Homo sapiens: one gene and its partners. The protein of the gene in region 3 interacts with the protein of the main gene of each other region in a biochemical or structural test. Each region holds a gene or a part of one and is shown on either strand. Other genes may lie near its edges.

What was found.
Region 1: the proteins of MAP2K1 (region 3) and GRB10 form a complex in vitro, tested with the Homo sapiens proteins (one study listed by BioGRID).
Region 2: of the proteins of MAP2K1 (region 3) and KAT7, one has a biochemical effect on the other in vitro, tested with the Homo sapiens proteins (one study listed by BioGRID).

The regions. Positions count from the first base shown.
Region 1 is NC_000007.14:50,671,133-50,675,077, reverse strand, and holds part of GRB10 (growth factor receptor-bound protein 10), read left to right. Parts: intron 1-419; coding exon 420-642; intron 643-3,945.
Region 2 is NC_000017.11:49,826,681-49,830,280, reverse strand, and holds part of KAT7 (histone acetyltransferase KAT7), read right to left. Parts: intron 3,589-3,600; coding exon 3,482-3,588; intron 2,881-3,481; coding exon 2,779-2,880; 3' UTR 1-2,778. UniProt on the Homo sapiens protein: Catalytic subunit of histone acetyltransferase HBO1 complexes, which specifically mediate acetylation of histone H3 at 'Lys-14' (H3K14ac), thereby regulating various processes, such as gene transcription, protein ubiquitination, immune regulation, stem cell pluripotent and self-renewal maintenance and embryonic development.
Region 3 is NC_000015.10:66,487,912-66,491,511, forward strand, and holds part of MAP2K1 (dual specificity mitogen-activated protein kinase kinase 1), read left to right. Parts: intron 1-1,303; coding exon 1,304-1,365; intron 1,366-1,806; coding exon 1,807-1,852; exon of another isoform or gene 1,853-2,590; coding exon 2,591-2,704; 3' UTR 2,705-3,600. UniProt on the Homo sapiens protein: Dual specificity protein kinase which acts as an essential component of the MAP kinase signal transduction pathway.

The DNA of each region.
Region 1 (3,945 bases), on a different chromosome or scaffold from region 3:
CCAGGGAAGGGAGAGTCCTGATCCTGGGAGACACCTGTGATTCAGTCAGCTGAGTCCAGGCCAGTGGGGTCGTGCTATGCAGCTGTGGCTGTGTGCGGCCTACCGGAGGGGGTGGGGAGGAGAGAAGGGGGTGCTGAAGGGAGCTGAGCAGATGCTCTGAATGGCTTCTCCCTGGAGACAGGTAGAAATGCAGCCCAGCTCTAATGATTGAATTGTCTCTGGAATGTCAGTCATGATGAATACATGTAATATGCATGCTTCCATACAGTCATACTTGTCTTGGTGTTTCCCCTCTACCCCTTCCATAATATTTGAAAAATAGGATTGAGGTTTGGAACCTGATCACCAAGATGTACATTTGGGTTTGATTGCTCTCCATTGTTAAAGTTTCTTTTTTGCTCTTGCCTTTTTCTGTGCAGAGGATGATGTGGACCTGGAAGCCCTGGTGAACGATATGAATGCATCCCTGGAGAGCCTGTACTCGGCCTGCAGCATGCAGTCAGACACGGTGCCCCTCCTGCAGAATGGCCAGCATGCCCGCAGCCAGCCTCGGGCTTCAGGCCCTCCTCGGTCCATCCAGCCACAGGTGTCCCCGAGGCAGAGGGTGCAGCGCTCCCAGCCTGTGCACATCCTCGCTGTCAGGTAGGTCCAGGCCTTATGGGCAGAGCCTTCTCCAAGGATGAGAGCTGTCGGCAGGGACACTGCTCTCTGTGAGTTAAATGGTGTTGGGGGGAATAGTGTTGGTCTTGCAAAGTCAAGAGGCAGATACATTGCTTTGATGGGATAACGGATACACTGAGTGTGTGCAGTGTGCCGCCCTTGGGTTGAACTTTGTAGCCAGTTCAATTCCAGTAGTACCTTTTATTGAGTGCCTGCTATGTGCAAGGCACTGTGCTAGGTAGAGGGATATGCAGGAAAACCACCAGAGGAAAAATCTCTGGAAAGATTGGAAGAACAGCCATGGAGCTGATTGCATGCCCCAAGTCCTCACTACCCAGAGTAGGGACGGGAGGCTAGCAGCTACAGCACCCCCTGGAGCTTGTCGTGCAACCCCAGACCTCCCTCAGAGTTGCATTTTGCCACATTCCTCTGCTAATTCAGGGGTAGGCACATCTCTGTGGAAACAGGGAGGCTGGAGGGAGGAACGTGCTGGGGACGTTGAGGGAGGTTCCTGGGAGGTAGGATTTCTGAACGGATGTCAAAGGGTGATAGGAGCTCAGATAGATGGAGGCAGAGGTTTTGTGAGCAGAAGAGATGATGCAGATGGGGGCCGGTGCTGAAGCACTTTGTGTGCCTTTTTCAGGAGCCACGTGAGAAAGAGTTCTGGACAGGCGTGTGAAGGGGCTGGGTTTGGGTTTTGACACCAGCATTCTGGTTGCCAGGGGTCGTGGGGGCAGTGGTAGAGGGCAGCAGGGTTGGCAGAGCATGGCCGGTTTGGAAGTGGTCTCAGGAGCCCCCGGATGGGAGATGATTGTGCGCTGCCTGAGGATGAAGAAGGAGGGGGGATTTGAGCACGTTGCTGAGGAGGAGCAGCTGCGTTTTGCCAGCACTTGAATTTTGCCAGGGCTGTGAGGAGACAGAGAGTGTGTGGAGGGTGACTTGGATTTTGTCTCGAGTGCCTGGGAGGAGGGTGTCTAGAGAATGGTCATGTCGAAGGTGAAGGTGCTGAGAGTACCTTAGACATTCTGAATGAAGATCTTTGTAGAATCAAGCTGAGAGCCAGGGGCAGCCCTCAAGGATCCGCCTGTCTGCCCTGTCGCAGTCGGGATGGCGTGGGGCTCCGTGGGACCCTGCGTGCCTCTCTGGGCCTTTGCGGAGGATGTACAGCCATCTCTGCTGGGACTGCCCCTTGCCCTCACTGGCCTCTGTCAGGATGGGGTTCTGGTGCCTTCTGTCTCAGCACCCCATCTTCCGGGGAGCTCTGTTCATTTCCTGGGCTCTTCTTGCTTCTAGAAACTTCTGAGAGTTTTCTTTGTGGTCTGACATCTTGGGTCTTCCGCAGCCCAGATAATCACCTTGCCCCAGGTGGCAGCTGTTTCTTACGGAGGGGAGAGGGTGCAGCGGCCCTGGCGCCCGTGGTCAGCTGCCTCCCCAGCTTCCCACCCCGGCTTCCCCTCCGACTTCTCACTTTTTGTCATATTCATTGATGCTGAATGATGCCTGTCCCAGGGTTTGTTCAACTTTGCTCTTTGAAGCGTGACCCCTTGTACTTAGCTCCTGAGGAGTTAAGTCTGGTGGGAGAGCTGTTTTTCTCTTGGGAGCATCTCTTGGGAGCATCACAGTAGCCTTGGGGAGTGCCTGGGAATATGGAGGTGCAGTTGCATGGCGAAGGTGCCCGAGGGTGGGCTGGAAAGCCAGAAGGCCTGCCTCCCTGCTGGAGTAGTTGCCCAGGACCCTTGAACCTCGAGTTCTGGCTGAACTCGCCCATATGTGCCCCGGGACTACCTGCGCTAAGTCCCTGGGATGGAGGGGCAGGCTTGCTCTGTGGGACAGCAAAGCCCTCTCCCTACAGGGTCACAGGTGCTGTTCCTTGGGCCCAATGTCTTCTCTCTGGTGTCCTCTCAGATAAGTAGTTTTGTTTCTTACTTTCAGGTGGATTAAAAAAAAATGTGGAGATCAATCTGGAATCACCAAAGATTATTTTGTGAAGTGAGGCCATTTGCTGAGTGCTTACTGTGTGCAGATGCTGATGAGCTCCTCCTTGTTATCAGTGCCCTCGGAGGGAGGCAGTGTGGGTTACCCTCGCTTCCCAGCTGAGGAAACCGTGGCACAGCGGGGCGGTAACTGGGCTCACCACATCAGGTGGGAAGTGGCCATGGAGCAGGCTGCTGGGTACCAGAGGTCACGGAGCATGGTCCACGCTGCAGAGGAACTTACCGGGGGCTGCCATGCAACCCGAAGGGAGCTGGGGGGCAGGCAGGGTATGGGCAGAGGAGACACTTGGGAAGGGCAAGAAGGCTTTGCACATAGGAAAGCCGATGGGTGAGCCGATTCTGTACAGAGAAGGAACCCAGGCTTTTGAGAGTGCAAGGGCCACGCATGTGTTCTAGACAAACACAAGTGAGCCAAGGCACAGAGAAGAAGGACCTCGCCCCTCAGCTCTGCAGTTCCTGCCACCATCCCTGACATCCCTAAATCTCAGCACCCCTCTCCATAGTCACTGTCCCTTCTATTGTGAGCCTCTTTGGTGGGGATTTTTTGTCTTTGTGTGATATCCCTTAGTCTTGCCTTAGGCGATGTCTCTGAGCCGCTTTAAAGTCAACACAGGACTTTTTAAAATGCTCAAAACAACCCAATAAATAGAGAAGCTTTTGTGGACACTAAAACGTCAGATTATCTTTTTGGGGTGAAGTCACTGGCTAGAAGCCGTGGATGGGAAAGTGGCACTGGCCACCCGTTTTATCCATCTCCTCCTGTATGACAATGGCCAGACGTTTCAGTTGGACGCCTTGCCAAGGCTGAAGCTGTTATGGGAAGAGTGGGATTTGTTCACAGTAAAAATAAACTTTATGGCATGTCATCAAACCATTATAGGAACGGCTTTCCTGTATTTCGCAGCACTGATTCCCTTCATGCCATGTGAGTTCTCGTAATTTTAAATCCATGCATCATTTGCTGGTCTACGTGGGATAGTTAGCTGGATCTTCCTTTAAAAAATAGGGAAAGTTGGTAAAAGAGAAAAAGTAATACAGTCACAAAATGTGTTTCTGTAGTGGCAAATCTCCTGGGAAAGCTAACGGATTGTTGATTTTGTGAAATCGTAAAAATTGTCAAAAAAATTACTTGAGGACACAGCCTATGATGGGGGTTTCTGAGGTATGTTTAAACATGGGGAGGGATTGGAAATGCCGAGTGAAGATAATGTGAGGTTTGCTCCCCTCTCCTTGAAGGTAGGAGGCTGCAGACAGGGCCGCGTGGCCTCAGGAAGGGTGGAGGAGGCTGTGT
Region 2 (3,600 bases), on a different chromosome or scaffold from region 3:
CAGACATTGCAGTGAGCTGAGATCATGCCACTGCATTCCGGACTGGATGATAGAGTGAGACTGTCTTTTTTTAAAAAAAAAAAAAAAAAAAAAAAAAAAAATAGGTCGGGTGCAGTGGCTCACGCCTGTAATCCCAGCACTTTGGGAGGCCAAGGTGGGCGGATCACCTGAGGTCAGGAGTTCGAGATCAGCCTGACCAACATGACGAAACCCTGTCTCTACTAAAAATACAAAAATTAGCTGGGCATGGTGACAGGCACCTGTAATCCCAGCTATTCGGAAGGCTGAGACAGAAGAATCACTTGAACCCGGGAGGCAGAGGTTGTGAGCCAAAACTGCGCCACTGCACTCCAACCTGGGCAACAGAGCCAGACTCTGACTCAAAAAAAAAAAAACGGAATGAAATGGGATAGTCTCATGCAAAGTTGCCAAGGCAAGTGAAACTCTGTTTCCACACCTGTGGGGGTTTAAATGAGATAATAAATCCTTTTATTTTTAGGGAGTAAAGTGGGATGGCAAAGCGAGTGGAGACCTGGGATCAGGACTGTGCAAAAAACTTCAACTGTATGGGTTCTCACCACTACTGGTCACAGTGAGTGAAACCATTCCAGCACATACAATTCCCAGCCTCCTCCTTTCCACCATACGGAGGTTAGTGCTCAGCCACCCTTTTCCTGTGCTGGGTATATCTTACATGAAAATGCAGCTATTTTCAAAAAGAATAATTTCAACCTGCGAGAGAGTCAATAATTAGAGGTGACACTGCTCAATACTGGTGAATGAGCTTGGAGATGAGAAGGAATGTCTGTTCCCATCTCCTACAGGCATCAACTGTACCCCCATATATCCTAATTTCCTATTGGTTCCTTTGCCCCTAAAATCAGTGGAAAATGGCACTTAGTGAAAGAATGGGTAATACTGACTAATCATTGCTACGTATACTGATTAGCTGGAACCAAAGTGAGGCAGATCAAATTTGTGCCACCATCTAGAGAAGTTCAGAGTGAGCACTCCCTTGATCTTTACAGACAGCCTGTATCACAGGGAAAAACATTCCATAGCCACAAACCACATCCCTCAACAGTTTACTGCTAGGGAAAGCAAATCCCAAGTGCATTTACTATTAGTAGCAGATCGTGTGCATCATTTTCATATATAAATGAGAGCCCCCAGATGAAACAGACTTGAGCAGAGAACATGCTTTATTGAGGAGTAGATATAGAAGAGCACATTCTACCACATGTGGGGAAGGGTTTAGCTTCTGTAAAAGGCCTTTATCCCTTAAGAAAACCCCTAGTGAAGTTGCTTTTTGATAAATTTTAACAGTGACACTGAAACTGGAGGGGAGCTGCCACTGAACATGCTTAAAATTAGCTCCCCCAACCCACAGTGAATATAAGTAGTGTACAGAGATGACAAGAGAAAGGCACAAATGACCGGAGTCAGGGATTGTGGTGAGGGCTCCACATGAAGACAGCATGTTGGAGGAGACCAAGTTGGGAAGGGTGACATGTCATACATCAAAAGTTGCCCCAAGATAGCAGGTTATAATGGGCTAGAGAGAAATTAGAGGGAACATCTCTTCCTTCACTTGAACAACACCAAAAATAGAAGACCAGAGAATAGAAGGATGGTGACAAATCCCAAAAAGGAAATGGAGGAGGAGTTCGTGGAAGGGCAGAAGCACTTTAATCCTAGAGGGAGGGTGAGGCACTGTTGAAAAGAGAAGCAAACTTTGGCAGGGGTGGCCATTCTGCCTTGCTGAGTCATGGGCTGAGATACGGAAGTCACTTTCAATCATTTTCTACTTCTCCCAGGGCACTCAGACAAAATCAGTGCAAGGTATATGGAAGTACAGATGTACTGTATCAGACTAGTGGAGGTGAAAAGGTTTCTGCAGTATAATTAACCAGTTAATATGCAGCATGAAAGGGAAAAGTGGACATTACTTTGGCACCTGCAAACGTAAAAAGTGGGAGTAAAGAGAGAAGGAAATATTTACTAGTGAGTACTTTACGGTGAGGCAAAAAGTAGTATCCGTTCCCTTTCACCAAGACACTGCCCACTGCCCACTGCCCACAGGTGAACTCAAATCAAACCCAGAACCACCACCCCTTCATTCTTCTCTCCATCTCATTCAGATCAATTATATGCTATTACCATGACTAGTCCCTGGGAAACTCTTCAAAAGTATTTGGCTCTGGTTAGCCCAATACAGATCAAAAAGAGGTCTCTTAATCAAAATGAAGAAATTTAAAGCAAGATGGAACCCAAAGTGAATGGACCCCCTGCCAATCCACACACACTCACAAGTGCCACCTTTTCCCTGCCCCTCCATAGAACACACATATAAGGAGTAACTGGAAAGGTCCTGGTGGTGGCAGCCATATTTGGAGGTCTGGTGACCAGGTGGCAAGCACTAGTACCACGCTTAGAAGACACAACACAACCTCATGGGGCGAGAGGACATGAGGAGAGAACCAGTGACTGGACAGGTACAGTACCATAACAGAACTCCTTGGGTCAGTGCTGAGAGACCTGCACTCAAGTCTAATACAGATCCCATCCAGGCAACCTCACTGAGGCCGAAACAACAGTTCCTCAGAACCAGCGTCTGCAGTGTACACAAAGGTCGGAGCCAGGACAGTCCTGAGGGGGATGGCCTTCCCAAAGGATACTGTACTTGCCAATCACAAGAGCAACAGAGAAATGACAGACAGATCCCTAGGGTACGGATTCCTACTGCTGGGGTTCGCTGGCTCGGAATGACAGGTCACTTTAAGTGCCCTTGGGAGGGGTCCATTTTAAGCAGCTGGGATCCATGGTTTTATTGGAGTTGGACCTTTTGGCCTCTTTGGCTATCCACTCATCAATCAGGTCCTGAGGGAGAACAATGGGAAAAAGGATTACATACTTTCAACTCAAGTGCCTTTACATAGATTCCAAAATAACTAACCGCCAAGAAGGAATTGCCAAAGGTTTAACAACATATTAGGGTATCAAAAAAAATACTATATTTTGACTTATAAACTGCTTTCCTATCTAATCCATTCTTCCTACTTTACCCTCAGTGAGAAATGAAAATCATCGCTCACCGACCTTTATTGTATATATGAAATAATTTAAAAAATTAGATGTGAGTTTGAGTTGAGACAGCATTTGTGAAGATTCCTCTACAGATGGGCAATTTCCTCCCACCTAAGAAAAACATCAAATGACAGAAATGCTGTACAACATAAAGCTGCTTAACTGGAGCTGCTTAACTTGTGTCATCCAAATTTGAGACAGGAGCTTATCAAAACCTTCTGATAAGGATAAGGCAACACAGGCATCACTGCCAGCTACAGAAATGAGACCCAGTAAAAGGGGCGTGTAGCCCAACTCCTTTAAGGGAAGGTTCTCCAGTCTTAAGGCCCATACTTTGCTCTGCTAAGTCTTGAAGGACATCCAGCAATGAGCAAGCCCCTGATGAGAACCTTACCTGTCTCTTTAAAACTAGGTGTTTTCCCTTCCAGTATTTGAGCATCTGAAGGGCTTGCAGAGTGCTGACAATGTCCACAGGATTCACAGCCGTCTCCTGACTGATTTCTGAAACAGAAG
Region 3 (3,600 bases):
CTTCCAAATTTTCACATTAATTTCCCATGCAATTCTCCCAAGCATTGCTGAGGTAGGCCAAATTGGTTCCTCTTCAAACAGGTGAGGAAATTGAGCCTCCGAGATGAAAAGTAGCCCAGGTCCTTCCCACCCAGTGCTCTTTCTTCCTTGCCACCTCCCACCTCCCATTCTTACCTCCTAGGAGGCTTGGCTGCATGGCAGTTGTTCTACTGCAGCCTCTGCTGGCACACAGCCCCTCTGCTGCCTAGCTCTTTCCTGTTCAGAAGGAATGGATGCTGCCTCTGGAGGCCAAGCTGCTGGTCTCCTCTCTTCCTTGAATGGTCCCTTGATTCCCTCAGCAGTGGGGACAGTCTGCAGAATGGGGCTTGCTCTGGGTCACTGTTCTAAGAGCTGAGTTCTAGTCCTCACCTAAGATCAGACTGACATGGCCCTCAAAGGAAGAGCACTAGGTTGGGCTTTGTGGTGGGGATCAGTGTCTCATTTTTAGTCCCAAATTAAAAACGAGATTTTGGGCTGTACATCAGAGCAGTGACATCATGGACATTATGTCTGTGGGTCAGCATGGGTACACACAGCTCCCAGCCCAGGTACATAAGTGGGCCCACATTTCCTGGACTGCATGGAACGCCATGAGCCCAGTGCTCCAGAGCCTTGTACTGTATAGTGCTGCATGATCACCATGGGAAAATCTGAAAACAGCCTCATTTCTGGAATGTACAGGTAACATTCTTCCAGATCCAGCCCTCTGTCAGTTAATGTTTTATTAACTTTTCACTGCTTCTCTAGGGCTCAGAAAAGGGATTTTTAAAAACCGGTTTGCTTCTGCAGGTGCTGTCAGACCTGGGCTATGCCTGGTGGTTTGCACGTGCCCCTAGCTGTTGCTGCCAGTAAATTGCTGGTTACGTTCCCATGCCGCACTCCAAGATTTACCATTGTAGAGTGTCAGAGCTTGAAAGGGTCCCTGAGATCATTAGGCCCAACCTCTTCATGTCATAGAAGAGTAAACTGAGGCTCATAGAGGAATAGTGATTAGTTCAAAATCACCCGACAAGTGAGTGGACTTGACTTGGTCCCAATTCTAAATGTGCTATTTGAGATCAGTGGTTCCAACATGGTTACCCAACAGGCAGCACTGGCCTTCTACCTGTGCCTTTCCTTGACTGGATGAGAGTAGTACTGCCTTTGGACTGCAGAGAAGACTTTAAAAAAAAGTAGCACTGGCTGGTGGGAGGGGTGGGATGGGGAGAGGAGATGGCTGGAGCAAGGAGCCAGGCATTTTTCTTATCTCAACATGTGTTTGCAGCCTCCTCCAAAACTGCCCAGTGGAGTGTTCAGTCTGGAATTTCAAGATTTTGTGAATAAATGGTAAGTTGGCTCCTTGTTCTCTGGAAGCGTATACTCTGGATTTGTCAGGCTCCCCACCCCATTTCTGGAAGCACCAGCATTGCTTCTGCAGGCAGAGTTTTGCCCTTTACCCTCCCGTCTGATGATTCTTGGCTGCTGCCATAAGCCCTTTTTTAGAGTGCCAAGACTTATGTGGCATGTCTAACTACATCATGGATGTAGTAGCTGCTCCTTTTGGTACTTGCTCTCCAGGGATTGGCACGTTGCTTTTTGACCTTAGTTTAACTCAGCAAGAATGTATTAACTTACTGTGGGCATGATACTGTGCTTAGAACAGGAGGATGAATCAAGCCCAGGCAATCCTCGGCCTCTAGTGTGCAGAGAAGACAGGCATGCAAACATGTTATTTGAGCTAGAACCAGTGCCAGGCAACAGCTCTTACCTTGTCTTTCTTCCTTTAAGCTTAATAAAAAACCCCGCAGAGAGAGCAGATTTGAAGCAACTCATGGTGAGTCTATTTATTCCGGATTCTTACAGTACCTGTTTATTCATTTGTTCTTCTCTGTCAGTCATCTGTGCAGTACTTCCAGAGCCCATTCATTCCCTGCCCACTGTGGTCCAGCTGAGCCTGGGGCTGCAGAATACCAAACACCAGTCTCCTTTGCTCTCCCATCAGTTTAAGGGAAAGCTGGGGTGACCCCCGCAGCCTGAGTAAGCATATGCCAGAGGAAATGCCTGAGGGGGCCATGGGAAAGAAAAGGCCAGCCCACCCCCTTCATGGGGATGCGGCCTTTCCCTAATACTGACTGCCTCATCTTACATTCAGCCTCCTTCCAGAGTCACTCTCCGCCTGCTGTCTCGTTTGGTGGCAGTGGAAATAGCTAAGTAATACTGTAAATATCTGGACAGCCATAGACGGTGTATATAGTATATAATATGCACTAAGTCCATCATTTTCTTTGTCCCTTCTAACAAGCCTGTGAGGCATTTAAGGCAGAGTTACTGTCTCCATACTGCACGAGTAGGCTCCAAGAGGTGACTTGCCCAAGGCCTCACAGCTGCTGTGACTGGTGGAGCAGGTCTTTGGGCCTGCAGCTGGCCCCACTGTTGCTCAGGGGCAGGTGCCAGGTGCTCTTTCCAAGTGCAGCACAAGCTCTAGACCTGAAACTCTTGGATTTTCCTTCCTGGTGGGTTTTGTTTTTTTGTTTCTTTTTAACACCACGTCCTCTCGTTTCCTTACATGCAGGTTCATGCTTTTATCAAGAGATCTGATGCTGAGGAAGTGGATTTTGCAGGTTGGCTCTGCTCCACCATCGGCCTTAACCAGCCCAGCACACCAACCCATGCTGCTGGCGTCTAAGTGTTTGGGAAGCAACAAAGAGCGAGTCCCCTGCCCGGTGGTTTGCCATGTCGCTTTTGGGCCTCCTTCCCATGCCTGTCTCTGTTCAGATGTGCATTTCACCTGTGACAAAGGATGAAGAACACAGCATGTGCCAAGATTCTACTCTTGTCATTTTTAATATTACTGTCTTTATTCTTATTACTATTATTGTTCCCCTAAGTGGATTGGCTTTGTGCTTGGGGCTATTTGTGTGTATGCTGATGATCAAAACCTGTGCCAGGCTGAATTACAGTGAAATTTTGGTGAATGTGGGTAGTCATTCTTACAATTGCACTGCTGTTCCTGCTCCATGACTGGCTGTCTGCCTGTATTTTCGGGATTCTTTGACATTTGGTGGTACTTTATTCTTGCTGGGCATACTTTCTCTCTAGGAGGGAGCCTTGTGAGATCCTTCACAGGCAGTGCATGTGAAGCATGCTTTGCTGCTATGAAAATGAGCATCAGAGAGTGTACATCATGTTATTTTATTATTATTATTTGCTTTTCATGTAGAACTCAGCAGTTGACATCCAAATCTAGCCAGAGCCCTTCACTGCCATGATAGCTGGGGCTTCACCAGTCTGTCTACTGTGGTGATCTGTAGACTTCTGGTTGTATTTCTATATTTATTTTCAGTATACTGTGTGGGATACTTAGTGGTATGTCTCTTTAAGTTTTGATTAATGTTTCTTAAATGGAATTATTTTGAATGTCACAAATTGATCAAGATATTAAAATGTCGGATTTATCTTTCCCCATATCCAAGTACCAATGCTGTTGTAAACAACGTGTATAGTGCCTAAAATTGTATGAAAATCCTTTTAACCATTTTAACCTAGATGTTTAACAAATCTAATCTCTTATTCTAATAAATA